7 linked regions of the Homo sapiens genome follow. The protein of the gene in region 3 purifies or fractionates together with the protein of the main gene of each other region. This does not show direct contact. Each region holds a gene or a part of one and is shown on either strand. Other genes may lie near its edges.

What was found.
Region 1: the proteins of PCDHB11 (region 3) and ST7 purify together in Homo sapiens (affinity purification with mass spectrometry; 2 studies listed by BioGRID and IntAct, with this or other methods). This does not show direct contact.
Region 2: the proteins of PCDHB11 (region 3) and TTC17 purify together in Homo sapiens (affinity purification with mass spectrometry; 2 studies listed by BioGRID and IntAct, with this or other methods). This does not show direct contact.
Region 4: the proteins of PCDHB11 (region 3) and DCBLD2 purify together in Homo sapiens (affinity purification with mass spectrometry; 2 studies listed by BioGRID and IntAct, with this or other methods). This does not show direct contact.
Region 5: the proteins of PCDHB11 (region 3) and ST7L purify together in Homo sapiens (affinity purification with mass spectrometry; 2 studies listed by BioGRID and IntAct, with this or other methods). This does not show direct contact.
Region 6: the proteins of PCDHB11 (region 3) and PEAK1 purify together in Homo sapiens (affinity purification with mass spectrometry; 2 studies listed by BioGRID and IntAct, with this or other methods). This does not show direct contact.
Region 7: the proteins of PCDHB11 (region 3) and MACO1 purify together in Homo sapiens (affinity purification with mass spectrometry; 2 studies listed by BioGRID and IntAct, with this or other methods). This does not show direct contact.

Annotation. Positions count from the first base shown.
Region 1 is NC_000007.14:117,214,522-117,219,000, reverse strand, and holds part of ST7 (suppressor of tumorigenicity 7 protein), read right to left. Parts: intron 1-4,479. UniProt on the Homo sapiens protein: May act as a tumor suppressor.
Region 2 is NC_000011.10:43,365,015-43,369,493, reverse strand, and holds part of TTC17 (tetratricopeptide repeat protein 17 isoform 1 precursor), read right to left. Parts: intron 1-4,479. UniProt on the Homo sapiens protein: Plays a role in primary ciliogenesis by modulating actin polymerization.
Region 3 is NC_000005.10:141,197,888-141,202,938, forward strand, and holds the start of PCDHB11 (protocadherin beta-11 precursor), read left to right. Parts: upstream 1-1,739; 5' UTR 1,740-1,887; coding exon 1,888-4,281; 3' UTR 4,282-5,051. UniProt on the Homo sapiens protein: Potential calcium-dependent cell-adhesion protein. May be involved in the establishment and maintenance of specific neuronal connections in the brain.
Region 4 is NC_000003.12:98,794,714-98,798,320, forward strand, and holds the end of DCBLD2 (discoidin, CUB and LCCL domain-containing protein 2 precursor), read right to left. Parts: 3' UTR 1,228-3,607; downstream 1-1,227.
Region 5 is NC_000001.11:112,581,142-112,585,620, forward strand, and holds part of ST7L (suppressor of tumorigenicity 7 protein-like), read right to left. Parts: intron 2,986-4,479; coding exon 2,831-2,985; intron 1,332-2,830; coding exon 1,234-1,331; intron 966-1,233; coding exon 851-965; intron 1-850.
Region 6 is NC_000015.10:77,409,579-77,414,057, reverse strand, and holds part of PEAK1 (inactive tyrosine-protein kinase PEAK1), read left to right. Parts: intron 1-4,479. UniProt on the Homo sapiens protein: Probable catalytically inactive kinase. Scaffolding protein that regulates the cytoskeleton to control cell spreading and migration by modulating focal adhesion dynamics. Acts as a scaffold for mediating EGFR signaling.
Region 7 is NC_000001.11:25,433,488-25,437,966, reverse strand, and holds part of MACO1 (macoilin), read right to left. Parts: intron 1-4,479. UniProt on the Homo sapiens protein: Plays a role in the regulation of neuronal activity.

The sequences.
Region 1 (4,479 bases), on a different chromosome or scaffold from region 3:
TTATAACAGGGAACACTTCTACAAAGGAGGCAAGGCTTACCCCACCAAGCTATGTGCCAGATGAAATGTCAGAGATAAATTGTGATGGATTACTCACACATTCATCTCACACTATATATTCTGAGCAAACCTCACAAAACTGGGTGGGGACAGAGGTGCAGAGGGGTTGGGAAGCCATCAGTATCAATGCCCAGGGTTTCATCATCTACTAAATATTATTAAAATGTTATGGGCACTAATTCAATATAGCTAAACAAATAGTAATCATGCAAACGTGGATTAAAATGCTTCCCCAAGAAGCAAATGTGGATCGACTTGTTGGAGTTTGTATAGATGTACAAATATGAAAGGTATTCTACCAAATTGATTTAAAAAATACTGTTTAAGTGGATTTGAATTCCAATCAAGATGAATAAAAACAAAAATCTAAAAATGTATAACTCGGGAGGTGTTTCTAAACTTTATTAAAAGTTTAAATCTTAACTTTTATCATGTGGGAAAATTGATCTGGAGAGATTAATTATCTGTATTTTGATGATGTTAGGCCACCTAAATTCTGCTTTTGTAGCATCAGATGACATTAGGGCTCACACTGAATTACGGCTTTCCAATCAATCCATCCTTTCCCATGATCAAGTGTGTTACTCTCCCTGTTACAATGTCATCAGCATGTTAGTCTCACTGTTCCTATGAACAGTACTCACGGAGGTAATTTTTCTTCAACAGATGTCCTCTTACTACAGCCTGCTGTAGATATAAAATATAAAAGCTCTACCCTACTCTGGGAATGTCAGATAACAATCCTTGCCTTCATGTATGGTAGTGAGGGATGGGGGCAACATGCAGCAATATTTTTAGTTTTAAATGATACATTTCAAGGAATCATAGCTACATCCTCAGCTGTGTAACTACCAGAGCCTTCTCAAAATGCTGTCAATGTACATATTTATCTTTTGCATACTTATTTCAAACAGGAATCAGAAACAAAGAATGTTCTCCCTCACAAGAAATGACAAGGTTCCATTGTAACCAGCATCAGTGCACATATGGTATTTATTCTGGTGTCTGAATATTATTTAAAAGTAAAAACATTATGTATGTGATTCCAGCATTTGGAATGCAGTCAATCTACACCGCAGTGGTATCACTCTGAGGTTACAGCACATTGCCACGGAGAATATAAATCACTATAAATGTGGGATTAGAGCAGAGCCAGTTTGCTGGCAGTTTGCTGAGGTAAAAATGTTATCAATTTTCCTCTCATAACAGAAACCTCTTAAACAGAGATTAAAACATTAAAAACACCCCAGACTTTAACTCTGCTTAAAATGAAAGGCTCACCCTAGTTCAATCAGACCTTTTCTTGCACGCAAACAAAGATGACTTTTGCCCGCTAGAACAAGCAAGAGAGGAGTTCTTTGCACAGGTTGTTAACACACAAAGATCATTCCAAGGAACCAACATCTCTCTCATTAGAACCAGACTTTCAAGAGAACAAAACACCCCCCACAAAAACAAACAAAAACAAAAATAAGCCTTTTAGTGCCTTTATAGGATACACTAAAATCTCTTCTGGGAAGCACTGAATTTAAACTTAAACTACATTACGGCAGGATTTTAATGCCATTTCCCATAAATGATGGCTGCTACAAAAGCATCTGAAAAATGTGGAAAAACCTACGTGGGAAGTTTTTTTTTTTGTTTTTTTTTTTCCCAAATCCAGATTCTCCATGTGCAAAGGGCTGCTGGGTTGCTGTAATTAAGTATCTGTTCAAGTTCATATGATATAAATAAACCCTCAGTTTTCAAAGTGGCTATAAATTTGAATGCTAAATTTTATTCAAAATTGAAGTCAGTTTGCACTTCAGGGAGTAATTTTTTAAATGAAATACAGGAGTGCAAGATCTTGAGAGTGTTCAACCATAGAAATCTAATGGTTGGTTGGTGTCTTTTCAGTCAAATGCTACATGTTTTTCACTCCAATATTTGGCATGCATATAGAATTTTGTGCGTCAAGTTGGCCTTTTCCTTTTTCTAATTGGTTCTGGTCTTTTTTGGAGAGGTTAGAGACACAATACAACTTTAAAAAGAGTGCATGTGTACACACAGCCACCCACCCACCCACACCCTCTTCCCGGATTGCCCTCCACCCCCATGATTATAAAGATGCTTATGGTGCTCTTAAAATCTCTCTCATGTCAGTTGCCATTTGCATTGAGCTCAAAAAATAATATTAAGGCTTTTGGCTTCACTAAACAAAAGCAAATACAATTTCTGCTTGCAATTCTATCCTTTACCCACCCTGCAGTGCAGGGCCCAGTCAAGTGTGAGATAAGCAGGGGAGGTCCAGAGAGAGGCCGGTAGAGGCACTGCACAAGCCTTGCCAGCGTCACCTCCCACCTCCTGGTCCCTTTCACTGCTAAGACATGCAACTGCTCCATGACAGCCTTGTGCCTTTTGCCAAATGTCCAGAAATTTTGCGAATCTAAGTATTAAAAACACACTGATTTGGTGGTGCTAATAAGAATAGAAAAAGGTCATTTGAACAGATCTATTTTATGAATGAATACAGACCTAAAAATCCTTAAGAAAACACAAATTTCAGAGGAATTAAAAATACACATGTATTGGGTTAAAAACAAAACAAAAAAGTTAGGCCACTCAGAGTGAATACATGGTATATAAATGATATTTCTGCACTTTCCTCTGTGTGCCATCCCTTCCCCTACCTTGATTTTGGTTGTGAATTTGCTGAAGGGTCAAAATGAAACTGAGAATTAGTGAAAGAACAGATCATGCCTTCACAATCAAGTCTGTGGCACAATGCTGTCTTCTTCTATCCCTGACCAGACACATTTTCTAGGTTCCAAGTCTATCAGTGCTGTTCCCGTCAGAGATTCTCAATTGATACTGGGGGGAAAAATAAACAGAACCAAAGAAATGACAAAAGGATGGATACATGAACAAGTTAATTCCTGATTTTCCCAATGACTTCTAATGACCTCTTCTTACTCTACCTACTAGATAGGCAAGGATAGAATGTAATCAATCTTAGAGTATCTTAGATAATTTTATACAGATTATTTGTAACAGAGGGAACCGAGTTTGAATCCCAGCTCTACTTCTTATAATCAGTTGCTTGACAAAAGGTGAGTGGCTTCTTATGTGACAAGCACACAAAGGTGAGCCCAGCACACACTGCCCCTGCCCTCATGGAGCTCACCACCAAGTGCCAGAAGCAGGATCCAATCATGAAAGTAAGAGCAAAGGTTCCCACGGTGATGAATACCTCCAAGGGAGTCATGGTGCTGTGTGTACATAATGGAGAAGCGGCCAAAGTGGCATCTAAAGGATGAGCAGGACCTGCCTAGGCTCACTAGCGTATGACTTTGCGTGGGTCGTTAATCTGTGTCCCTGTCTCTTCATCTGTAAAATGAGAATACCACAGGCCTCAAAAGGCTGGTAAAGGAACTAAGTGTAACAGCAGAGGTCAAGGCATCCACATATAGTGCCTGGCTGCTCAGTAAAGGTTGGGTTTCTCTTTCCCCCATATCCCTCTCTATTAAACCTAAAGTTCCTACTTTCTCTGTCAGGTCATACTCTAGTTTATAAGTAAAAATTCTGCTTGTTTGTTAATAATTAGAAATGCAAGTGATAGAACAGGAAATTATCACCAAATCGCAAATTTCATGTCCTTATTTTTAAGTTCAATGTAGCTAACCAGCCACGAAGGCCATCTGTTTTTAGTGAGGCATTTGGGTGCAGCAATAAAGAAAATTCAAAAGTCAAAAGGCTGGGTTGTGATCCACATGCTGTCACTACCTAATTGTGTGGCCTTGGGAAAAACACTTTCCCTTAGTTGGATTAAATGATGTTCTACTCTGAAATTCTAGGGTCTTACAGCAGACTCACTAACTTCTTAGTGACCCTCACCACTCTAATACTCAGTTCCTACTGTCATGACAGATAGTGTGGATACAAGCATTACTATCTATCTATCTGATGTGAGGTGTGTGTGTGTGTATTTTTTGCTTATATACACTGTACACACACACACACACACACACACACACACACACACACACACACAAATGTTCTTCCCAAAGCATTTCAGATTCTTATTCATCTTGATCTCCTCAACCCAATGCCTGGCACAAAGGATGGACTCAATAAATATTTGTTGAATAAAGTAATGAATGAATAAACGCACAATCAAGAAGAGACAGAATATTCCTTTTTAAAAACTCAGGTGGACCCATATGATAGCCATTCACCGAGACGGAATAAAGGAAAGGAGCAAGTTGGTTCTACTGGGCAGTAGGTGGGGAACCATCATATGATATCTGGAGTCTGGCTATTAGGGTAAGTTAGCTATGACCAGCGACTTTAGCCTATCATTGCTTTCTCCGAAATTACAGAATTTAGCCTTAGATCTATGGGGGAGGGTGGTGGAATTTCTCTTTGGTAGTTCAAAAGGTG
Region 2 (4,479 bases), on a different chromosome or scaffold from region 3:
GGCCTTATATCCCTGTTTTCTAAAGTTTTACCCTCAACTGGATTTTACCTTCTCATTTTCACAGTTCCTGAAATGTACAAATGTATCCTTACAGCTGTAAATTTACATAAAATAATCTAGGTAAGGGACACGTATTGCACAGTTGTTATCTAGATTTGAACATCTATAGTGTTGCAGTCAATTTTATGAGAATATTCATGTCTGTAAACAATCACCATTCTCCTAATTGACAAGCAAGTTAGTAACCATTTTCAACATGAACCACAAATGAGTAACTTCCTATAATAGTGCTACCAGTCCACATTTTCTAATTCATGTCACCAGGGCATATACAAATAACATAATTAATAAAGTAGAACATTTGCAACTCTAAAAGGAAGGTAAGTGAAAAGCTGGATCAAGACACAATAGTCAAGGCTCAAATAGACGCTGTTTTAGATAAAACTAGTTAGAACAAGAGATGACATGTGAAAAGAGACCTGAAAGGAGAGAGAGGCTGAGCCGTGATGCCATCTGCAGAGGAAGAAGCAAGGACAAAGGTCCAAAGGCAGAATCAAGCTTGGTGGTTTGAAGAACATCCCGAGGGCTGGTATGGCTGAGGCAGAGCACACCACACCACACAAGAAAGAAAGTGGTGTCTGAGGCTGGAGGAGAAGACAGGTGCCAGGTTCTAGATCTTACAGGACCTTGTAGGCCATAAGGAAAACTCCAGATTTTAATCTAAGTATGATGGGAAACTACTGAAGATTTTCTGATGTTCTTTGTTTCCCTCCTATCCCAAAGGGAGTGACATGACCAGCTGTGCTTTTTAAGAGATTACTTTGGCTGCTCTGGAGATAACAGATCTAGGGGACAAAAGTAGAAGCAAGGAGACCAGGTAGGAAGCCACTGCATAGGTTCTGCAAAGAGATGAAGACAGTATTGACTGGAATTACAGAAATGGAGGTGGAAAGACATGGCTGGATTCAGGAAACATTCTGGAAGTAGGGCTGACAAGTTATTACTACGTTGGGTTTGAGATATGAGAAAGAGTCAAGAAGATACCAAAATTTTGGACCTGGGCAATTTTGTGAATGGGGGAAGATCAGGTGTGGTGGGGTAGAAAATCAAGAGTTTAGTTTAGGACATGATGTATTTGTGATGACAACTAAATGGTGATGTTCAGTAGGCAGTTGGATATATGAGTCTGAAGTTCAGGAAGAAGTTGAAACTGCACGTAAGATTTGAGAGTCTTTAGAATATAAATGGTACTTTATGCCCCGAGACTGCAAAAGATCATCTGGTGAACATATGTACAGAGGGAAGAAAAGGGGCACACCAACACCTAAGACTCATCAAGAAAAGGTGAATTCAGCAGAAGAAAATGAGAAGTCAGGGCCAGGGACTGAGAAGAAAAACCAGGAATACGTGTTGGCTCTTCTGTATGCTAATGCATGTAAGAGCTATTACAGGTGTAAAAAGTTGCTTAGTTGCACACATTCTCTCTCCCTTACTCAGTGTTTCCTCAGTGTATACTATGTGTCAGCCACTCTTTTAGGTAAGCATGTAAGAAAATAGCTGAGTAAGATATGAAGACAAATGCTGGGCTGCTAAGAACTTAAGATTAGTGAGAACTGAGCATAGGCTCTGGGTATCTTGACAAGAGTTATAGGGATGAAGGATGAATTGGAGGGGGCTTAAAAAAGGAAGAGAGAGGAGACTCCACGAGCACAGATAACTCTTTTAGGGTGTCTGTCTGTAAAAGAGACACACACACACACACACACACACACACACACAGACATTCCCCTTGTTTTCACTTCTGCTATCAAGGAGTACAGCTGAGACGCAGGTTTTAGCTTACACCCTGCTCCTTAACATTTTGGAATGCAAAGTTGTTCTAATTTTTGACGTGAGCAGCTCGTGAGCCCTCTTATTTATTCTTCACTATCAGAGCGCCTTCTGTTTACTTTCACCAGAGTGACTTCTAAACTGCAACAACTGCTGAACCCCACAGCTGGTTCTAATCCCTCCTCAACAGTGCAGCTGCCATTTCTCATCTACCACGCCTCTGTTTTTTCTGATTATTTTCTTCTGCTTATCTTTTTCATTGTCTCTTGTTGCCCCATACTTTTTGCTTTTTGATGCCTGCGCATTAAAGTTGACCTTTTAGATATCTAAACTGGTACAAAGACAGCGAGGATGATTTCCCTTGCATAACACAACATGACTACAGTAGGTAAGCAGGAATGATCTCTGAAATTATGGCTCTTCTCATCTACTGTGCACCTTTTCTGAGGGCCTACGGGCTGATTCAATAATGCGTGACTCAAAGCTTTAAAGACATGGAAGTCTGAGGCTTCTTTTAGGCTTAGTCCCCAGATGACTAAAATATTACTGAATACTATAAGGATTCATTGAGAAATGTCTAGTGTGGCATTTACCTAAGTAGGTAGGCCCAACACAGTATGGTAGATCCTTTCATAAAGGAATTCAGGATGCTATGGAAGCACATAGAACAGCTTATTCAAATTTGGGCATACCAGAAGCTTCACTGAGAAAATGATGTTTATATTATGACGAGTATGACTCAGCTAGACTCGAGTGTTGGGGGAAGAACAACATATGCAAAGGCCCAGAAGAAGTGAGAACACGGCATATTTGGGGATGCTCACAAAAGCTAAGTCAGTATGGCTGTGTGTGTTACTCTAGGGTTAGGGTGGGGTACTCAAGGATGACCCGAGATAAGGCTAGAGAGGAAGGGCCAGGTCACATAAGATATGTTCGAGAATCTGTCTCCCTCCCTGCCACCAAAACCTTGTCAATAGAAAGAGTTTGGACCATATCCTGGGATATGCACCAAACTATTAAAGGTAGCTTTCCCTGGGGAGTGAGAGTGCATAGAGGTGGAGGGATTTCACTTTATTAAATATTCCCATGCTGGCATGGTGGATGTTTATTTTTACAATGCCATGCATTATTTCTGAATTCAATTTTTTTTTTTTTTTTGAGGCAGAGTCTCACTCTGTCACGCAAGCTGGAGTACAGTGGCACTATCTTGGGTCACTACAACCTCCACCTCCCGGGCTCAAGCGATTCTCCCACCTCAGCCTCCCGAGTAGCTTTGATTACAGGTGCGCACCACCATGCCCGGCTAATTTTTTGGTATTTTAGTAGAGATGGGGTTTTACCATGTTGCCCAGGATGGTTTCAAAATTTTTAATTAAATAAAACAAAGGAGAAGAACAGGAAGCTGCGGCAATAATAAGGTGGCCTGAATTAGAGTAATGATAGTAGCTATGGGAAGAAGTAAAATATAATTAGTAAAACAAAGATCTTGGTGATGGCTAAGGGAGACTAAGGAATTAAAGACAACTAGATTTCTGACGTGAACTAGTCCCAGCTACTCGGGAGGCTGAGGCAGAAAAATTGCTTGAACCTGGGAGGCGGAGGTTGTAGTGAGCCGAGATTGCGCCACTGCACTACAGCCTGGCGACAGAGCAAGACTCCATCTCAAAAAAAAAAAAAGGTCTTAAATCTACAACTCTGGAGAAAAAAACTAAGTTACAAAAGGAATGCAGATACTCTCAGCATACATATGGTAACTGATGCTCAGGTGTATGTACAGAGTTTAAAAAAACTGGAACAGAAGCTGGAAGGATGGCAATATCTAAAACTGAATTTCTTAGACTATGTGTGGTCTACCTGCATTATACTCTCCCAAGGAGTTTGATAAAAATGTAGAATCCTTCGCTTTACCACCAACCTACTGAATCAGATACTCTGGGTGTCTTGGAAATCTGCATTTTAAGCAAGCAACTCCCAATTCCCCAATTATTTTTGTACAAGGTAAAGTTTGAGAACTACTTATCTAAAGGGTGAGTATGAAAAAGAGCAAGGGCAAAGAAACAAAAACAAAAACAACAAAGTTAAGAAGGAGATGAGCTGGCCAGGCATGGCGGCTCATGCCTGTAATCCCAGCACTTTGGGAGGCCAAGGCAGGTGATTGCTTCAGCTCAGGAGATCAAGATCAGCCTGGGTGACATGGCAAAACCCCGTCTCTACAAAAAATACAAAAATTAGCTGGGTGTGGTGGCACTTGCCTGTAGTCCCAGCTACATGGGAGGCTGAGGCGGGAGGATCACTTGAGCCCAAGAGTTCAAGTTTACAATGAGCCATAATCATGCCACTGAATTCCAGCCTGAGCAACATGGTACAACCCTATCTCTACAAAAAATAAAAAAAAACTAACCAGGTGTGGTGGTATGCACTTGTAGTTCCAGGTACTAGGGAGGTTGTGGTGGGAAGATCACTTGAGCCTAGGAGTTCAAGGTCACGGTGAGCTATGACGGTGCCACTGCACTCTAGCCTGGGTGACAGAGTGACCTGTCTTTAAAAAATAAAAAACATTATGGCCGGGCGTGGTGGGTTCACGCCTGTAATCCCAGCACTTTGGGAGGCCGAGGCAGGCAGATCACCTGAGGTCAGGAGTTTGAGACC
Region 3 (5,051 bases):
CTCAGCTCTGCCTGGGGTTTCCAAGACTGGAGATAGTATAATTTCTCCAGAATATAATCTAATTTCTCCAGAGTATAAGCTTTCCATTCTCTGGCTCTCAGTTATTTTCTTGTCTCTGTATGATGGTGAAAAGACCAGAGAATTCAACTATCCTACATACATACTTTCAACTAATAACTTCTTTTTTAAGCCCTTACTTGACTTCAGCCTTCTTATACACCTGGTTCCTCCAAGTCTGGTACCTACTAGGATTGTGTAGGGAAAACCCAGTAGTTTATTTTTAGTATCTCCAATGAAGGAACTTTATTTTAGACATTTCTTGGAACTATTGTCAATTGCTCTTTCATCTGCTTTCTATCATCAAATAATTTGTGTATTTACTTATGTATTCTTAGTCTTTGTGAATTCATACCTTTTATTACTTTTCTGTCATTTTAGAGAGGGGTTAAGAAGAAGGAAGGATAATTGTATAGTCAATCCACATACTATTCAATTTCTACTCTTCTGCACTGATAATTTTTCAACCATGTATCTAGTTCACATTTTTGTGAATGTAATTTGAAATTAGAATTTTTAAAAGCAGACTTCTTAGATGTCCTCCATTATTGAGAGTACTTTGAGATGTCTAACAGTGGATACCATTGGTAGTTTCCAAGCACCTATTCCAACTATCTCCCTCATTATGCCATGCACTTTGGCTAGGACTGAAACCACCTCAAGTTTAAGGGGCAATCTCTGCCTGGATTAAAACAAAGGGTCAAAGATGGAGTCTTTAGATTCTGGGACTATAATCTCTACCTTTAATCCTATACATCTTGAGACACTGATTTCTTCAGTAACAGGCTGAAGTGCTCTCAGTTGGTCTAATCAGAATGAAGGCTAAGATTTTGTTCTATTATTGAGGAAGAAAATATCTCTCATTCTGTCTTCTTGAGCTGAAAAACAAAGCAGATAGCCATAGATGTTGCTGGAATAAATCTTGGGAAACTGAGGGAGGGCAGTCTTAGAAATAAGCCTGCTTTAAATGAAACTAACATGCTTGTGCTTGTGTATTTATTATTTTTTGAGAAGCTGGAACTAAATCAAGGATTCTCATAATGTGTTCTACTCCCAATATCTTACTTTACTTTCTAGCAGTTCACAATTCCTTGCTACCAAGGAAATCTATATAAATGCCTTCTTGTGCTATCATAACTATCAAAGTATGTCCCATCTCATGGTTAATCCAGTTTCATATCCTCTGAGAGGACTTCTAAAATGACCCATGTATAGTTTGCCTTTTCATTACCACCTAAGGAAAGTCAAGTAGTGATAGAATTTTGTACAGCTTAAAAATATTATGGTTGTTTTATGTTTCCAGTCTTCTCAGAAAGATTACAAACCACTGGGAGCCAGGAATCACATCTTGTATTTCTGTATTCACCACAACTAAGCACGTTTGGTTGTATGGAGAAGGGGGAAAGATAAATGCTTTAAGATGAATATTAACAGCATATCAAACTAAAGAGAATATGAAATAATTATTACAGAACGTGCAATATATTTGTAATCACTTGAACACAATGAATAAAACAATATTTGTTTCCGGAGGACATATAAGTGAATGGAATTTAGGTAGCTTTCACCAAACTGTGAAAATCTATGGAGACACTTGGTGGCGCTGCAGGATAACATCGTGAAAAATATATTCACTGGATGGCGTTGTGAACACTGATATCCAGTGCACACAGAGAATCAGAAGACAGAAACAACAAGCCTTCAAGAGGGTGACCTGGAAACCATTCAACAGGGTTAAAATCCTTAGACCACAGAGGATTTGGTGGACAAGTCAGAGACGCGTTCCGCAGAGCTGAAGCCTTTCTTCAAGAAGCCTACAAGAAAGGAACTATGGAGAACCAAGGGACACGCACTCAGCAGATAAGGCAAGTCCTGCTTCTCTTTGTTTTGCTCGGAATGTCTCAGGCGGGCTCTGAAACCTGGAGCTTTTCTGTGGCAGAAGAAATGCAGAGCGGGAGTTTTGTAGGCAATCTGGCAAAGGACCTGGGGCTGAAGGTGAGAGAACTGTCCTCACGGGGGGCTCGGGTGGTCTCTAATGATAAGAAACAGCGTTTGCAGCTGGACATAAACACTGGGGATTTGCTCTTAAGTGAAACACTAGACAGGGAGGAGCTCTGCGGTTCCATCGAGCCTTGCGTGCTACATTTGCAGGTGTTAATGCAAAACCCCACGCAGTTTTTACAAATTGAGCTTCAGGTCAGGGATATAAATGATCACTCTCCCATCTTCTCGGAAAAACAAATGCTCCTAGAAATCCCAGAGAACAGTCCCGTTGGTGCTGTGTTCTTACTAGAAAGTGCGAAGGATTTAGATGTAGGAATCAATGCTGTAAAAAGCTACACAATAAGCCCCAACTCTCATTTTCACATTAAAATGAGAGTCATTCCAGACAATAGGAAATACCCCGAGTTAGTTCTGGACAAGGCGCTGGATTATGAAGAGCTCCCGGAGCTCAGTTTCATCCTCTCTGCTCTGGATGGTGGGTCCCCTCCCAGGTCTGGAACTGCCTTGGTCAGGGTGGTGGTTGTGGACATTAATGACAACTCCCCTGAATTTGAGCAGGCTTTTTATGAGGTGAAGATTCGGGAGAATAGCATCCTTGGCTCGCTGATTTTGATTGTCTCAGCTTGGGATTTAGACTCTGGAACAAATGGTGAAATATGCTATACCTTTTCCCATGCCTCAGAAGATATTCGCAAGACATTTGAAATTAATCAAAAGTCTGGAGAAATTACTTTAAGAGCACCTCTGGATTTTGAAACGATTGAGTCATACTCAATAATCATTCAAGCCACAGATGGGGGAGGACTTTTTGGAAAATCTACAGTCATAATTCACGTGATAGATGTAAATGACAATGCTCCTGAAATCACTGTGTCATCAATTACCAGTCCAATCCCAGAAAATACGCCAGAGACCGTGGTTATGGTTTTTAGTATCCAAGATATAGACTCTGGGGACAACGGAAGAATTGTTTGTTCCATTCCGGAAGACCTCCCATTCGTGCTAAAATCTTCAGTTGAGAATTACTACACGTTGGAAACAGAGAGACCACTGGACAGAGAGAGCACAGCCGAGTACAATATCACCATCACCGTCACCGACTTGGGGATACCCAGGCTGAAAACCGAGCACAACACAACTGTGTTGGTCTCTGACGTCAATGACAACGCCCCCACCTTCACCCAAACCTCCTACACCCTGTTCGTCCGCGAGAACAACAGCCCCGCCCTGCACATCGGCAGTGTCAGCGCTACAGACAGAGACTCAGGCACCAACGCCCAGGTCAACTACTCGCTACTCCCGCCCCAGGACCTGCACCTGCCCCTCGCCTCCCTGGTCTCCATCAACACAGACAACGGCCACCTGTTCGCCCTCAGGTCGCTGGACTACGAGGCCCTGCAGGCTTTCGACTTCCGCGTGGGCGCCACAGACCGCGGCTCCCCGGCTTTGAGCAGCGAGGCGCTGGTGCGCGTGCTGGTGCTGGACGCCAACGACAACTCGCCCTTCGTGCTGTACCCGCTGCAGAACGGCTCCGCGCCCTGCACCGAGCTGGTGCCCCGGGCGGCCGAGCCGGGCTACCTGGTGACCAAGGTGGTGGCGGTGGACGGCGACTCGGGCCAGAACGCCTGGCTGTCGTACCAGCTGCTCAAGGCCACGGAGCCCGGGCTATTCGGCGTGTGGGCGCACAATGGCGAGGTGCGCACCGCCAGGCTGCTGAGCGAGCGCGACGCGGCCAAGCACAGGCTGGTGGTGCTGGTCAAGGACAATGGCGAGCCTCCGCGCTCGGCCACCGCCACGCTGCAAGTGCTCCTGGTGGACGGCTTCTCCCAGCCCTACCTGCCGCTCCCTGAGGCGGCACCGGCCCAGGCCCAGGCCGACTCGCTCACCGTCTACTTGGTGGTGGCGTTGGCCTCGGTGTCTTCGCTCTTCCTCTTCTCGGTGCTCCTGTTCGTGGCGGTGCGGCTGTGCAGGAGGAGCAGGGCGGCCTCGGTGGGAAGCTGCTCGGTGCCTAAGGGCCCCTTTCCAGGGCATCTGGTGGACGTGAGCGGCACCGGGACCCTTTCCCAGAGCTACCAGTACGAGGTGTGTCTGACGGGAGGTTCCGAGACAAATGAATTCAAGTTCCTAAAACCGGTTATCCCTAATATCCAGGCAAAAGGTCTTGGGAAGAATAGTGAAGAAAACTCCACCTTTCGAAATAGCTTTGGATTTAATTTTTAGTAAGAATGCTATTTACATTTGCATGTACTTTTTTAGTTTTATGTAACCATATCAATATTATTTAGTCTTAAACTAGTTACGTTATTATGCAATACGACTAATTGTATTTTTAATTTTTTCTTTTCTCCCCCAATTTTTTTTTTTTTTTTGAGACCGAGTCTCATTCTGTCGCCCTGGCTGGAGTGCAATGGTGTGATCTCAGCTCACTGCACCCTCCGCCTCTCGGGTTCAAGCAATTCTCCTGCATCAGCCTCCCGAGTAGCTGGCATTACAGGCGCCCACCACCACGCTCGGCTAAATTTTTTTTTTTTTTATCTTTAGTAGAGACGGGGTTTCACCACGTTGGCCGGGCAGGTTTTAAACTCTTGACCTCATGTTCCACCCGCCACGGCCTCCCAAAGTGCTGTGATTACCGGTGTGAGCCACTGCGCCCGGCCTTTTTTTTTTCTTTTCTTTTCTTTTTTTTGATACAGAGTCTTAGTCACCCAGACTAGAGGTCAGTGGCAGGATCTCAGCTCACTGCAACCTCTGCCTCCTGGGCTCAAGAGACCAGCCCACCTCCGCCTCCAAGTAGCTGGGACTACAGGCGTGCGCCACCATGCCCGGCTACTTCTTGTATTTTTTGTAGAGACGGATCGTCACCATATTTCTTAGGCTGGCCTTTAACTTCTGAGCTCAAGAGATGCACTCCCCTCAGCCTCCCAAAGTGCTGGGATTACAGGCGGCCAGGCCTATTTTCAATTTTCAAGTATTGCATATCATTGTGAATA
Region 4 (3,607 bases), on a different chromosome or scaffold from region 3:
ACATGGTGAAACCTCATCTCTACTAAAATACAAAATAATTAGCTGGGCGTGGTGGTATGCGCTGTAGTCCCAGGTACTCGGGAGGCTGAGGCACGAGAATTGCTTGAGCCCGGGAGGCAGAGGTTGCAGTGAGCCAAGATCGCGCCACTGCACTTCAGCCTGGGTGACAGAGTGAGGCTGTCTTCTAAAAAATATAAAAAGTGAAGTTGGGATTTTTGGATTTAAATGGTACAAAAAGAATATCTCATTTTCCCATGATTAAAGCTAATCTTCAGATGGAAAGCTTGCCTGGCTACCTAGGGTGCACCAGAGAATCTGATCCAATGCAAGCCAGTCAATCCTACAAATGTGGTGAGCTAGTCTTCCTTCCTATATTTTAATAAATGTAACCAAAGGCCATCTGGAGGTAGGGGAATGAGAGGTGAAGAAACAGAAAAATAGAGGTTATAAGGATGGAACTAAAAGTTGTCAGAAGAGGTATGAGCTGAAGAAAGAATTACTCTCTTTTGACCAATAAATACAATTGGGAAACACTGGAAAACCATGGCTTGATTACTGACAACCAACCTGCCTCTCTAAAGAGGGTGTATAAAGGGTGAAATACATTAGATTTGGCTCAGAAACAGAATGCGGTACTTATAAAGCAGAATAAAGGGGAGAACAGTAGTAGTTGATCTAACCCAGATTAGACATGAATACCAGCATATGTTTGCAGAGTCCCACAGTTTTGATTCCTCTTATAACTTTTTGAGGTGCAAAAGGAAGGTACCAGAACTGGAATCACATGTAATCAATCAGTGTGATTTTCCCCTCATACCACACAGCCATAGGCTGCAGTGTGGCTGCTGAAGTTCAATTGATATAAAGTAAATCAGGCTTCAAAAAGAATGGTGCTGTGGGTACACAAGGACATAAAGATGGGAACGATAGACACTGAGGACTGCGGCGGGGGGAGCGAGGGGAGCGGGGAGGGCAAGGGCTGAAAGACTATGTATTGGGTACTATGCTCACAACCTGGATGATGGGATCATTCATACCACAAACCTCAGTATCACACAATATACCCATGTAACAACCTGCACTCTGCACATGTACCCTTAGAATCTAAAATAAAAGTTGAAATTATTTTTTTAAAAAAAGGATGGCGCTGGTCATAGAAAAAGTCAAAGTAAACTAACAGTGTCATTTTCAAATGTTGCTGGAAGCACAATATTGGCCATAAATTAGTGAGGTTAAAATAGAAGAATCTGGCATTTTATAGTATAAGGAAAAGCTACAAACCTCAAGGTTGTTTTATTTAAACCAAATAATCTGAGCAAGACATATATACATTAAAAACAAATGAACACATTAAAATTTCACTATTTTACAATCTAAATTCTAGCAACATATACAAATACTGAGTGACTACAGTACATGCCGAGGTAAGATAAGTACATTCTGGGAGAATATCACTGACGCTCAAACCATTTTTATTTCCAATATGTATTTCAATACATGTTTGTTTCCACTTTTCCCAGTGCCACACACACACACACAAAAACAAAACAAAACAAAAAAAAACAGTCACAAGTTGGATTACATTAGAATTGGTGCCACAGTTGACTTTAAAAGCATTTTAATAACCACCCAACTCTTAGATTTTGCAGTTTAGGGACTTCAAGTTCAGAACCAAAAAGCAGAGAATCGTTTCATGTGACATGATGTTTCTATAGACCTCTTGCTCTCTAGGTGACAATGCAGAGCCAGGGCAAAGGTGTTTAAGCTTTGTCACCTTCCACAGCTTTGTGGCCACATTCATATTTAGATAAGCTCGGACTCTGCTCCCCTCTTCTGGAGATGGGGAGAGGCAAGTGTGTATGTGTTGTCATACTTACTGCATTAATTCTTCACTCGAACCGTTTACATCAGCGAATAAACCCATTGTTCAATGCAAAGTGCAAACAGTGAAACATGAACTTAAATAAACTGGACTAGACCCATCACATCCAACAGGATCTATTTAGATTTACAGCATTTAATAAAGTATAAGTCAGAATTCACAATATCTTAAACTGTGCTGTTTCCTAAGATCAAGTAACAGCCAAGTCAGTGTAATTTTATGAAACCTGTAATGGCCACATTTGTTGTGTCTCCGATGTATTTCTATAATTGCATTAACAGGAAAAAACTTAATCCAATATACCAGTGACTTTGAGTCTTAAATGTTGCAAGCAAAGGATAAAAATTCAAGGGAATTTTGTCAGATATGGTTACTTTCACATTTTCAGTTGTTACTTGATTGTCTCCAAAGCCGTATATGTATCAGACATATAAATGTAGTAAAAAAAAAAAAAAAAAAAATAGAAAACCTCTACTATAAAAACCAATGAACTAAAAAGAAGTATAAAGCAGAAAAACCATTTGAATCAGGCTCAGCTCTTCATCTGGAAAGTAAAGTTTATATAAAAGTAGTAAAAACTAGATATTTTATAAAAATTATTGGTAGTTCAAGGATAGCACAGTGGCAATATGAATCGAGTCTTAAAATATGCATCATTTCAGAAAACACTTGCCCCTCTTAAAAAAAAAAAAACCCAAAACTAAACAACAACAACAAAAACCTCCAGGAAAAAACAATCAGGTATACACAATTAACACAAGAATAGCAAACTTCTTTGGGAAAATGAAATAGTTACCAAAAACATCTCTCTTAAAGCTTCAAACAGGTATATTACTTGAGGAAAAGTATATTCTCTGTGTACTAAGGATGAATTAAAAAATCAACTGGTTTGCTCTCTTCCCACCTGAAAAGGGATGACTGCATTAATATATGTGCTTTCCACATCCATATATGTTTTAATAAAAGTCTACCATCTATGTCTTTTGTTTCAAACATTTTGAAACAAAATATGTATTGATTCTTCAATGAATGAAATCACGCCTCAAAGTTTGGAGAAGGAAAAGCCAGTGAAAATAAGGCCAAAAAACCATACCACAAAAGGACAGGAAGCCTGCAGAAATAAACAGTTCTCTTTCTGAAGCGATGTTTTAGAATACTGATATAATTCATGGAAACAAGAAAACAAATACTGTTCATCTTTATTCAAATTGAGTGAATTCTGGCAACATCATAATCTGGTGGCTCAGGCCAACAGAAGTGACTAGAACTTTATGGAAAAGTACTGTTCAACATTAAATCTACAAACAAAGGTTTATGGAAGAGGGAATGTCAAATTTATGTATTTTTATCATATGGTGAGCTGCTCATGTCGTCTTGACAGTCTGAAGGCTTTAAAAGATGGTTTTACATTGTTAGCTAATAAATTACAGATGATTTCTATTTTGCCATGTCTAAAACTAGCTCTGGGCAGGTATGAACAAGTGGTGACATGGAAGCTGCCAGGAGGTATCAAAAACAAGGCATGAATATTCATTTGCTAGTAAGCTATAATGTCTGTTCCCTAGGTGACATATAGGACTACTCAAACCTCTTACCACACAAAGTGCACGATCACGCAGTCCTGAAAAATACACGTTAGGTTTATATTTTGTGTAACAGTTTATGGAAAACTGAAATGAAAAATTATTTTTTCTGACTAAAAATATAAAATACCTTGAGACTCAA
Region 5 (4,479 bases), on a different chromosome or scaffold from region 3:
TATCATTGAACTTTGTAACTAAAAAGCATTGTAAAAATGTTATTCTGAATTGCTCTTATAGTATATACTGCTAAGCAACTTCTCTGTTAGGCTTGCTTGACACTCCAAAACAAATAAGGTACCCCTACTATGTGCACAGCACCCATACTTCTCCAATTATCTCCCAAACATGCTGTCTTCAATGTAACTGCTGCTCATTTGTCTGTATGCTCCACTAAACTGTAAATAAACTGTAAATCCTATGAGGGCTCCCCGTCTTTTTTTTTTTTTTTTTTGAGACAGGGTCTCCCTCTGTCGCCTAGGCTGGACTACAGTGGTGCAGTCACAGCTCACTACAGCCTGAACCTCCCAGGTTCAAGTGATCCTCCCACCTTAGCCTCCCAAGTAGCTGGGACTACAGGTACACACCACCAAACCCAGCTAATTTTTTTAAAAAATTTTTTTGTAGAGACAGGGTCTTGCCATGTTGCCCATGCTGGTCTCCAACTCCTGGGCTCAAGTGATCCTCCCACCTCAGTCTCCAAAACAAAATGCTGGGATTACAGGTGTGAGCCACCATGCCCAGCCTCCCATGTTGTCTTGTTCACTGTCATATTCTGAATGACTCACTCATATTAGAAACAAGCACTCAATAAACAAACAAGTAAATCTTGACAGAAGAAAAGTTCTTCCTTGCAGACTTTTGCTAATGAAAGTCCTGATAAAGAAGATACTAAATAGCAACCTCTGAGTGCTAAATACTGACTGGTAAGAACAGAAAGAGAAAATTAAATACTAGAATATAACCACATTTATAATTACATAATTGGAAAAGAATAACCATGCTATCAACTAAGGGAATATGACTCACCATCATATTTTGCTAGGACTGCCTGAACATCTGGATAGGCCTGTAATTCTAAAAGTGATTCTAAGAGATTTTCATGGATGTTCAACATGGTAAGAGGAGGAAATTCTTTCATCAACTGTATATTAAAAGGAAAAGAAAGATTAAAATCATAACAAAGGAACTCAATAGAGCTGAGCCAGATTCATTAAGTAGAAATTCTTGTTTCTTACCATAGCTGTGAAGAAGACCTAACCCTTAAGAAAGGTACGTATATTAAATAAATACCTTGTTCTAAAAACTACCAATTAAAATACAATGATTCTGCATTAAAATAACTGGCAACTTAACTAAATTTTTAGTTTCTGGAGGAATAAATGTAATAGTCCCATCATCAATTTACTTACATCTCTCATTATTTTTACTGCTTCTCTTATTCTTCCTAATTTTCTTGCACACATTGCCAATCTTCTTTTAATATATACCAGTACATTGGTATCTCTCCCTATTTAGAAAAACAAAAAAATGATACAACTATCACTTTTGTATTGTGGGCTGCTATTTCATTAACATATCCATTAATTTTATTTGCTTCCCTTGGAAGAGTCAATTAAAATTAAATTGTGTCAGAATGGAAGAATATTAATGATGTCTACATTTGGATGATAAATATTGAACAGGAGTGTTCTCTATTTTTGCGCATGTTTCAAGTTTTCTGTATTAAAACTTAAAATACACATTTAATTATTTTTGCCTCTAATAGTAACTTAAGTACAGTATATATAATTCGTGTATGATTGACAAGTTTATTTTACCATTAGCAAAAAAGAAATACATACATTATAGTAAGATATAACATTAACCTAGTATTTAAGTTTGTGCATAAATGATCTACTATTCTGATACTCTCTATTGTTTTAAATGAAAAACAAAAAATGTCCAAAACAAAATTTCCATGGCTAATGTAAACTTTTCTTAACAGTGAGTAGTTGACAAACTATAAAACTACTTCTAGAAAGAGCTAACAAATATTTCTGTAACTAGCTCATAACCGTATTTGAGATTATTCAAAGACAAATGGCATGACATTTTTAAAGATGTAGTTTCATTAGTTCCAGGCTACAAAATTATATATTCCCACAGATTTGTGTTATAAAAACTGTGCATTAATGAAACATACCATATATATCTGTATTTAGCTTAGGGAGAAAAACATTATCCAAATTTTAATTTACACATAAAAAAAGATTTAGAACTTAGCTGCCAGTAGATAATGCATTATATAAACATATTTCAATTTATTACCCACTATTTGCCAAAATCATGAAACTAAAACCCTCTGGCCATAAAAATAGCAGGAAGCAGCATCATTGCTGATTCTAACATCTTTGGTAAAAAAAAATCTCAATCATAACTGGTAGAGCATATCTAAGAACAGAAAGGACTTCTGTTGCTATGGCTCATCTGATCTCAAGCACATCATGGAGAAAAATCAACCAAAGAAAGAATCAATGCCAAGTATGAGGTTGGATTTTGGGCTAAGAATCAGATGGTGTGAAAGGGGCCACTCCCTAGCACTATATGCAGATACACAGTCTGAAGAACCAACCAAATAATGTACCTCTACTGTTGCTTAGAGTAAGGGTGAGGATAAAGATAACAGCTGCTTATCATCACTAGAAGGCTCTCCTGAATGCTGAAAGTTTTTGAGTTATGTTTTTACAATGACCAGCCCAATTCTCACATGAAATAAATTACTGTTAAGTCTCAGAGCAGCACATCTTCTCTCAATAACCTGAGCAGATCTATTCCCTTCCACAAGCATTCTCTGGCTAATACACATTTCTGTCTTGCTGGCTTGTAGGTATTGTGAATAGATTAGTTATTTCCAGTGAAAATTAACTAACCTGTAAGTATTAAGTTTTTTATTATTGTTGTTTGTGTTAAGACACAAGCAAATTACAGATGCTAAAAGACAGTAATAACCAGTTCAAACTTGCTTACTCAGTTGAGCTTCATGCTGAGGACTTTGGTGCTGGCACTGCTGTGACTGCCTATAAATTGTTTCTCCTGCCTTGAGTGCCTGTTTAAATAACCTTTCAGCATCTACAATAGTTGTTGCTTCTTCCTCAGCCAGTAGAACATATGCAGTGGCACAGCTATGAAGAAAGCAAGAAGGCAATTTTAAATAAAATGGTAAAGCAAGTGTTTTCTCTTGGTTATGTCCCTTTGCTCTATGTCATATTTCCTTACCTACACTTTTTCCATCTTTAGAAAAAAAAAAACCTTCGTTCAATATTTTACCTTAATAGGGGCACATTGGTATATTCTTTATGTCTGATTCCACAATTCTTCCACTTTCTTATCTTTCCCTTCTCTTTGTTTTTTAAAAAAAAAAAACAAAATTTTTAAACTTCTATCTCATTCTCTGACCCATTGTCCTGTGTTTTCTTTTTGTGAAAGGGGGGAGAAAAGAAGATTTATAAAGAATTATCTGAATTGTATACCCTCTACTGGTCATACCTGCTTTTTTTTTTGAGATGGAATTTTGCTTTTGTCACCCAGGCTGGAGTGCAATGGCCCAATCTTGGCTCACTGAAACCTGGGCCTCCTGGGTTCAAGCAATTCTCCTGCCTCAGCCTCCCGAGTAGCTGGGATTACAGGCATGCAGCACCACGCCCGGCTAATTTTTGTATTTTTAGTAGAGATGGGGTTTCAACATGTTGGCTAGGCTGGTCTAGAACTCCTGATCTCAGGTGATCCACCTGCCTCAGCTTTCCAAAGTGCTGGGATTACAGGCGTGAGCCACCATGCCCGGTTGATCATACCTGCTTTTAGTCGCTATATAATTTATGACATCCATTTCATGGGGCAGGTATGGGGAGGGTGAAGATTGGGAAGATAGTCCCTTGGCCAACTAGGCACTTTTAACATCTGACTCAGAAACATAGTCCAGGACTAGACATTTTCCCCAAATCTGAGTACTCCCCTCTGCATGCTGTCCCATCCACACATGGACTTATCCACAATATTATGCAGTATAACTTCCCTTGTTCTGAATTCAGGTCCTTCCTCCTACACTCCTATTCTCATTCCTCAAAACTATGCTTATGCCAAGTTTTCTTTTCTTCACCCCACTAAAACACAGAGGCTTTTCTTTGTATCTTTTAAGTCAACACCTGGCTAATAAACTAATGCTTGTTTTGGGGCCACAAAGAGAAACAAAATGTTGTTATTCCATTCCCAGAAATAACAAATCCATCTCTTCTACAGACAATATCCTAGTTGTGATTATCTAAGACGGCACTGTCCAGTATTCTAGGCATTAGCCACATGTGGTTATTGAGCACTTGAAATGTGATGCGTCTGAATTGAGATGTGATGCAAGTGTAAAAATGCACAACGAATTTTGAAGACTTAGAAGAATGTAAAGTTCTTCATTAACAGATTTTAGAAAAGTACTGACTATATGTTAAAATAGTTTAATATTTTGGGCCGGGCGCGGTGGCTCATGCCTGTAATCCCAGCACTTTGGGAGGCCGAGGCGGGCGGATCACGAGGTCAGGAGATCGAGACCACGGTGAAACCCTGTCTCTACTAAAAAAAATACAAAAAATTAGCTGGGCGCAGTGGCGGGTGCCTGTAGTCCTAGC
Region 6 (4,479 bases), on a different chromosome or scaffold from region 3:
TGAGCCCAGGAGTTTAAGACCAGCCTAGGCGACATAGGGAGGCCTCATCTCTAAAAACTATAATAAATTAGCCGGGTGTGGTGGCATGTGCCTGTGGGCCTAGCTACTTAGGAGGCTGAGGTCAGAGGATCACTTGAGCCTGGATGGTAGAGGCTGTAGTGAGCCATGATTGCACCACTGCACCCCAGTCTGGGCAACAGAGTAAGACCCTGTCTCAAAGAAACAAACAGAAAAACTGCTGCTATATACTCTTCACCTGGGTTCCTCTAATGTTAACATCCTACATAACCATGGTGCATTTATCAAGCTAAGAAATTAGTATTGGTACGATGCTTCAACCAAGCTTCAAACTGCTTTAATATTTTACCAGTTTTTCTAGTATTCTTTTTCCATTCTGTTATCCAAACCTTGATATTGCATTGCTTTAGTTGTCTTCTTTGTCTCTCCCAATGTGTGGCAGTTTCTTGGTCTTTTCTTATCTTTTATAACCTTGACACAAGTATTTTGTAGAATGTTCTTCAGTTTAGGTTTGTCTGATGTTTTCTCATGATTAGATTGGGGTTATGGATTTTGGGGGAGAGTACTGCAAAGGTGAAGTGCCCCTATTATTTCATACAGGAGGTGCATGATATCAAATAATTTATCACTTGTGAGCACTCTGTTACGGTGGTTTCTGCTAGGTTTGTCCACTGTAAAGTTACTATTTTTCCTTTCCCATAGTCCGTGCACTAGAAACAGGTTGCTAAGTGTAGCCCACACTTAAAGGGATGGAAATTAAACTCCACTTCCTGGAGGGAGAAGTATAAAAGAATTTGTGGACATATATTAAAACCACCACAGTAATTGGTAAATATTTTGAGAGAGCTACTTTGAGGCTTTGCCAGTATCCTGTTTCTGCCCACTAATTTTAGCATTCATTAGTGGATCTTGCCTGCAGCAATTATTGCTGTGGCTTCTGAAGGTACTTTTTTAAATTTTCCTCATTCTTTCTACATTTATTAATTAGAATTCTTCTATAAGGAAGGTTTTCCCTTCTATCTAATCATTTATCTCAGTTCAAATTCATAGATATTTATTTTATTCTTAGTGTTAGAATTAAATGCTATCATTATTTTGTTGCTCAAATTATTCCAGTTTTGGCCCTTGGGATCTCTTTTAGGTCTACTTCTGTGTCTTTTTGGCATATTTCTATCCTTTTTTTATGCGTATGTACATGCACACTTCTTTATTCTCTGACACTACCACATGCTTCAGGTTCATCTTGTTTTTTTTTCCTACCTCAGCCCTAGAATCAATTATTTCTCTAAGGAACCTTGGTTCCTTTCATTGGAGGATGATATTTTGAAGCCAAGATCTGGATGCTAAGTGTGCTCATTGCTGTGGAGTATCATTGCTCCTAGACTTTCTCAGTGGAAAGAACTAGGAAATGCATGTATGTATACTAATCCACGTATCCATGTACAATTATGTAAAAATCTGTATTTCTGTATATAAAAATATAAATATACTGATTGTCTGTGACTCTAACTGGATATGTTTTGATACAGATAGATTTACTGATGGATTGGTTGTAGAATGTGAAAAGAAAAGAGTAATGGATCACTCCAAGGTTTTTGACTTGAGCAACTGGAAGGATAGAGTTGTCATTAATAGAAATGAGGAAGACTTGAGGACGGTGCAGAGCAGGTTTTTGGGGAGAGTTTAGGAGTTCTGTTCTAGACTGGTTAAGTTTTTGAGATGTCTAATAGACATGCTAAGTAATAGAGATATTAAGTCAGCAGTTGAACATGGGAATCTAGAGTTCAGAGAAGAATGGTCCAGGTTACATTTGGGACTTGTCAGTATAGATTAGATCACCTGAGGAGTGAGGGTAGCTAGAGAAGAGAAGAAATTTAAGGACTGGCCCATGGGGCATTCCAGTCAGAGAGATAAGGAGGAGCAGTTCCACATAATGATAAGGGCTGAGGTGTGGTTATAGGGTGGATTTCATATCATTAATAAACACTTAATACCTATTATTTGCAAGATACCAAGTTATGTTTGGGGTTAACATCACTCCCTCCATAAATTTATAAGACAAATTACAGACTTAAAAAGAGAATAGCAGTAGAAGGCCACATACCTGATAAAGATATAAAGTACTAGGGGCTGGGTGTGGTGGCTCATGCCTGTAATCTCAGCTCTTTTGGAGGATGAGGCGGGAGGATCACTTGAGGCCAGGAATTTGAGACCAGCCTGGGTAGTGAGACCCACCCCCAACCCCCATCTTTACAAAAAGTAAAAAAGTATTAGCTGGGTGTGCTGGCCCATGCCTGTTTTAGCTACTTAAGTGGCTGAGGCAGGAGGATTACTTGAGTCCAGAAGTTCAAGGCTGCAGTGAGCTATGATCGCACCACTGCTCTCTAGCCTAGGTGACATCGCAAGACTGTATTTAAAAAAAAAGGTATGAAGTACTAATGAAGCTTATTAGAGAATGTGGACATGAGAAACTATGAACTCAAATATGTGTCAGCTATATTTAAACACCGATGTAAGCATGTGTGCGTCAAGAAACTTGTCAAGGCTTTATGTACACACTAGTAATTATCAACCAGTAGAAGTTTCTCCATATGTTAACATTAGTTTCGGAGGTTGTTTCTGTTCTTACTTCCTTTCCATTATTAGGTCTTGGGTTGTTAATTGTGCCTGTAGTCATTGGCTATCAATTAAGCCACTCAGTGAACTGATGAGGAGTGTTTCTGCTGCCCTCGACTTTTTAATTTTTGGCTCTCTGCTACCTTTTCACAATCAATAGGATTTAACTTCAGACTGCATACAATCAAATGTTTCCATTTACAAGCAGGGTTGTAAATCAAGCAGGGTTGGCCTTACCATCTGCCGTGAATTTGCCCCACCTTTTTTTTTTTTTAACTATTTCTTTCACATGTGGTCTTAGACATTCACATTTATCATCTGGTTATTAAAGTCAAACCCAAAATAACAATTTTAGAATTTTAAAAATAATTACAACATGTAGCCTGGTAAACCAAAGTTTTAGTAAAACATTTTAATTTCAACCCCTTTGCATTAAAAATAGGTAGGCTTTCATTGCCAGCTGATAAGAGGTGGTAGTATGGCATGAGGCAGGCAAATAGCACCTATCTAGTAATTATTTAAGTGTCAGTCACTCTTCAGGAACTACAAGAAAAATAACAGGTGTATCTACTTTGTAGGATAGGGGGCAGGTAATTGCAGGATTCCATTCTTATTTCTACCTCCGAATAGTCGACAAAGCTATTATCCAGGTTTATGGACCAGTGTGTTGTATTTATTAGTTGTGAGAAATCTGAGCATATTTATATGCTGAGTGGAAAGAGCCAATGCATTGAGTGCAAAGACTGTATCTTATTAGCACAGTTCCTAACAAGTAGTGGATATTCAAATATTTGTTGAATGAAAGATTTCAATAAGGTACTTTACCCTTATAAAATTTAAGACATGAAGATTTATTTAGCTTGTTCAAGAAAGCTGAAGATATTAAAAATTTTCATTGTTTAAGTCAGAGTTAGTGTAAAACAAAATAAATCTGTAAGGTAACATCCTCATTTTAGGCCAAGCCAAACAAATCATACCACTTTGTAAAAACATGATCACAGACGGGTGCGATGGCTCACACCTGTAATCCCAGCATTTTGGGAGGCCAAGGCAGGCAGATCACCTGAGGTCGAGAGTTCGAGACCAGCCTGACCCACATGGAGAAAGCCCATCTGTACTAAAAATACAAAATTAGCTGGGCGTGGTGGCGCATGCCTGTAATCCCGGGAGGCTGAGGTAGGAGAATCACTTGGGAGGCTGAGGAGCTACTCAGGAGGCTGAGGCAGGAGAATAACTTGAACCTGGGAGGCAGAGGTTCCAGTGAGCCGAGATCATGGTGAGCCAAGATCGTGCCATTGCACTCCAGCCTGGGCAAAAAGAGCGAAACTCTGTCTAAAAAAAAAAAAAACACACACACACACCAAAAAACAAAACAAAACAAAAAAACCACGATTACTGTCTTTCAAGTAGCTCATAACCTGCCCTCCAAGAATAGTCAAGAATTCTAGTTCAGAAGTCACACTGCCTGGATTTGAATTTACCAGCTCAGCCACTTCCTGGCCATGTGACTTTATGTTAGTTTCTTAACTGTGCTTCAGTTTCCTCATTTGTAAAATAAGGATAATACTTGTACTTACTTTATGGGGTTGTGAGGTGAAATTAGAATATATGTCATGCATATATACAAGTGTTCAGTTTTTAACTGTTATTCTAAAAATGCTAAGAGGCTAGTATCTTAAGGTTTTTTATTTTCTCAAAATTGCATATGCTGAGTGTTAAAGGAAAACAAATCCCTCTGTGAACAAGAAAAAACACTGACAGAAAGTATACCACTATACTCATAATGATATGTTGAGACAGTGAGTAATGGGTTTTCTGCTTTTTGCCATCTCCATTTTTTCTTTT
Region 7 (4,479 bases), on a different chromosome or scaffold from region 3:
CTTTGGGATTATATTAACCACCACGCCCAGCCAATTCTCTTTTTTTGACACAGGGTCTTGCTCTATTGCCCAGGCTGGAGTGTAGTGACACGATCATGGCACACTGCAGCCTCAAACTCCTGGGCTCACGTGATCCTCCCGCCTCAGCCTCCCAAGTAGCTGGGACTACAGGAATGTGACACCACACCCAGCTAATTTTTTTGAATTTTAGTAGAGATGAGGTCTCGCTATGTTACCTAGGCTAGTCTTGAACTCCTGGACTCAAGCAATCCTCTTGCCTTAGCCTCCCAAAGTGCTGGGGTTACAGCCATCACACCCGGCCAAAAATTCTTATTACATCTGAGCAAGACGACTCAAGCCTCAGACAGTATCTCTCTTTTCTGAGACAGGAATCCTTACTTTGGACATGAACATAGTATTCATTCTCTTTAATGTTCAACTATTCTTGCTACAAGATAGGCAAAGTACTGATTTTAGTACTCAGCTATTTATTTGGTTTTTAAAAGTGTTGGGTGGGTGCGGTGGCTCATGCCTATAATCCCAGTACTTTGAGAGGTCAAGGTGAGTGGCTCACTTGAGCCCAGGAGTTCAAGACCAGCCTATACAACACGGCGAGACTCCATCTTTATAAAAACGCAAAAACGCAAAAAAAAAAAAAAAAAAAAAAAGCCAGGCATGGTAGTATATGCCTTTGGTCCCAGCTACTCGGTCAGCTGAAGTGTAAGGATCTCTTGAACCCAGGAGATGAAGGATACAGTGAGCTGTGATCTCGCTGCTGGACTCCAGCCTGGGCGACAGAATGAGACCCTGTCTCAAAAAAAAAAAAAAAAGTGTTTTGAAGATGAACAACGTAACAATATGATTCAAAAACAGAATGAGATTATTTCTAGCCACTCCTCTGTGCTGAGTGGGAGATCGGTCCTAAACAGCTCAAACTCATCAGTGATATGAACAGATATATGAAAGTGGAGTAGTCACACCATTTTAATCACTAAATGCAAAAGCTCTGAAAAAGAGAAGGCAACAGAGGAGATGGGGTGAGGGATACATTATTTTTGGTGCCACAATCCCATGACTCAAAGTGGGCATATCATCCTTAAAGGCAGCAGAGAAAAAAATATAAAGCAATCAAGGTCAGTACTATGACTGTCTTCAAAGGCCAGGGAAGACAAGTGCCTTGGAAGGCTCATCAGCTGAGACAATTTGATGTCGGTTAAATGTCAAATTAAAGATACAGAGCCTCAATATTCTCTAAAAGTTGATTAACTTTTTTCAAGCTTCCATTGCCAGGATGCAAGGTGAGAGGCTTTGAAAAGTCACTACTTAAGCATCTGAAGAAATCCACAGTGGAAAAAGTCTAACAAGGATATGTGTATCTACTGTTGTATGTACCATCCTACTTATGCAGCTTGCTGGACAGCCAACTTCTTTTTCTTCTGGACTTAATTCTTGAGCAAGAGCCAAGTAAAATAATTATGCCCAAATCTAGTAAGCCTGGGGATAAACTAATCAGTATATCTGAAGAGCACACTAAATTTTATGAAGAAAAGTAACCTAATTACAGTATTTCACTTAACTATGTTTGTGAAATTTCTACTTGCCCTCCAAACTCCACAAGATGGTAGCCTAGAAACAGATAAAACAAAGTGCACTTTATATACATAAAACCCCAAAGGGTTAACAGTATCAGTGGGGAGATCTGGGAGAAATGGCCAAAGAAAAAGATTCTAGGAACATAAATGCTTACAGAACATGGACTGGGTCCATGAGATATATACAAGCATATAACTAGTAAGAAAATGTAAATAATTATTTGTTAAACCTACCATTAAGATCAATCTCTAAATCTAGTGAGGTTCAAGAGAGGCCATGAGGAATCGATGTGAAGAAAAAGGAGACTATCAATGATAAAACAGGAAGCTTTTAAGCAAATAATGTGAAGTGAATCACGTTCTCTCCTGTTCCCCTCCTCAACCCAGCAGCAATTTAAAGGGATTTTCAAAACACCTAATGAAACTAAACTGCCAAGACTGCTCAGACAGGAAGAATCATAATGAAAGTTGGAGGAAAGTGCTTTTTCATCCCAGTGTGGCCGATTTTTAAAGTGTATTTTGTGAAAACCACAAATAGAAGAGTTTAGCTAATAAACACTTCACTGCACAGGTTAGTGAAAACATTTCAATTTCTCCTTCCCCAACACTCCTCTAAAACAATACAGAATCTATCACTTTCGTGCCAGGTCCAGGATTGTTAAAGTTAAAGCCTACCAAGATTACCAAAATGCTTTTAGGCTATGAGATTGCAACACAGGTATCTGGGGTTTCAGTTGCAGAACACATGTACAATCAAGGCAGCCAAGGGTCATGACAGCCTGCAGTGACTTTAATAAGCATAGCCCAAAGGAGTCTAAAACTAGGCTTAGAAAACATCATTAAGGAGGCAGAAAAAGCAGTCAAATGAAACCTCTGGAGATCAGATGTAGACAAGGGTCTGAAAAAGGAAATTGGGAAGTTGAGAAGAATGCAAAATTTAATCACTTTAAAAAGTCACTTTTGAGGAGCCCCAAGGACCAGAGAATTTTTCTCTGAAATAAAAATGGGAAATAATAACATATACACCAGTGCTGAGTTCTTAGTCCTAGTTTTAAGGCATTAAGCTGCAAAAATATGACAGTCAGGTACAATACTGCACTGCCTAAGCTTCACACAGCACTACAAGCAGAATCCAGTACATGAAGACAGGAAGCAGTCTTAAATACACAGTGAAAGGGTACTTCCTTCAGCCACCAGTAACACAGATATAAAATCATTCCCAGAAGCTTAAAACATATACCTTACTTAAAATTCGTATTATATTTACTTGCATAAATAACCATTTAACTGTAGCGATTTGGAATATATGTATACTTTAAACATAAATGTTTCTGCCTCCTTCTTCTACTTACCACATCTTATCTCCTCATTTTTATATTATAAAGTCAGTAATTCTCTGAGGGAAGGGAGTGGAAAGTATGGCAGGGTGAGAGGTAGGGGTAAACCATACAGAATCCCCTTAAGGCTTTTAAAAACTACATAGTACCCTAACCTCACCTCACCTGGAAAATCACTGCCTGCAATGAGATATTACTATCGGGAGTGTCTGGTGCACATGTGTCTAGGCAGACACAAGGAGAGAACCCAGCCCAGAAAACCAAAGGACCTTAGAAATATAAGAGTTAGGTACTTAATAACTTATGTTCATAATTTTTAAAGTACTTTCATATCTATCTCATTTGAGATAGAAAAGACTCCCTCATATAGTGGCAACTGTCTACTTTATCATAAAATAGCACAGAGCAAAATACAGCTGTTAATGTGTCAGATGAACCACTAAAACAGTAAGCTAAAATTTAGCACAACAGAAATATTTTTACTTGAACAGAACTTAAAGTTCTTTGGAAACTCTAAACCACTGTACAAATTTAAGATGGTATTACTACGGCCTACTAGACTGTAAACTCCTTGAAGACAATGAGCCATGTGTTATCCTGTATCCTCCGCAATTCCCTGAACAACGTAGGCACTTCATGAATGAAATGGACTAGCTTATATTCATTTATTAATTTACTCACTCAACATTTATTGAACACTGAATGTCGACTCTGTCAGGCTCTGGGCTGGGTCAGATTTTTTTAAAACTACATCGAACTTTAGCCCCTAGTAAGATGAAAAGATCACTATTCCTATTTCCTTTCTCCTATTTTTAATTATTAACTGGACTAAAATATTTCTATAGCATGTTTCACTTTTCAAATGATGTTTTATATGTATAAATGCAGATTACATTAACATAATGTCTAAAATTAATTTTCCTTGCATCTCACCCCGAAACAGAATTCCAAGACAGCCATGATACTCACAATAAATGATATCATTTGACAGTCACCTCAGTAACAGTTGTTGGACTGCAGCCCATGATTTAAAAGTGAGTCCACAACAGGATTTTTTAAAGCAAGACCAAACAGCAACTGACCCTTTGTTTTGGCTACTCAACTTTTGTTTACAGTTGCACCAAATCTTACAGTATTTCCTGCCTCCTTAAAAAATTAACCACACGTTAAACTGTGATAGCAACAACATGGTAAATAGTATCTGTAAACTACACTAGGATTTATAAAGCATTTCACAAACTGTACATATCTCCTTTAGTCCTCAAAACTCATTTGAAGGTGGGAGAACTGGGGCTCAAAGCTGTGGATGCCCTGTCTGCCTAAAGCAGCAGAGCTGGGATTTTGAGTCTGATCCTGGGTCTCCTGATTCCTGCAGTCCAGTGCGCTTTTCACCACAGCTGCCTCCTTCCTATGCCAAGGCTCAGAAAGTTGTACAGACTGAGAACATGAAAATAGTAAGTCCATGAAAGGTTTGGCTATGAAACAGTAGACAGTGGTTATCAAAACTGTCAACACGGCCCCAGAAAAAAAACAAGGCTCTCTGTTTAATG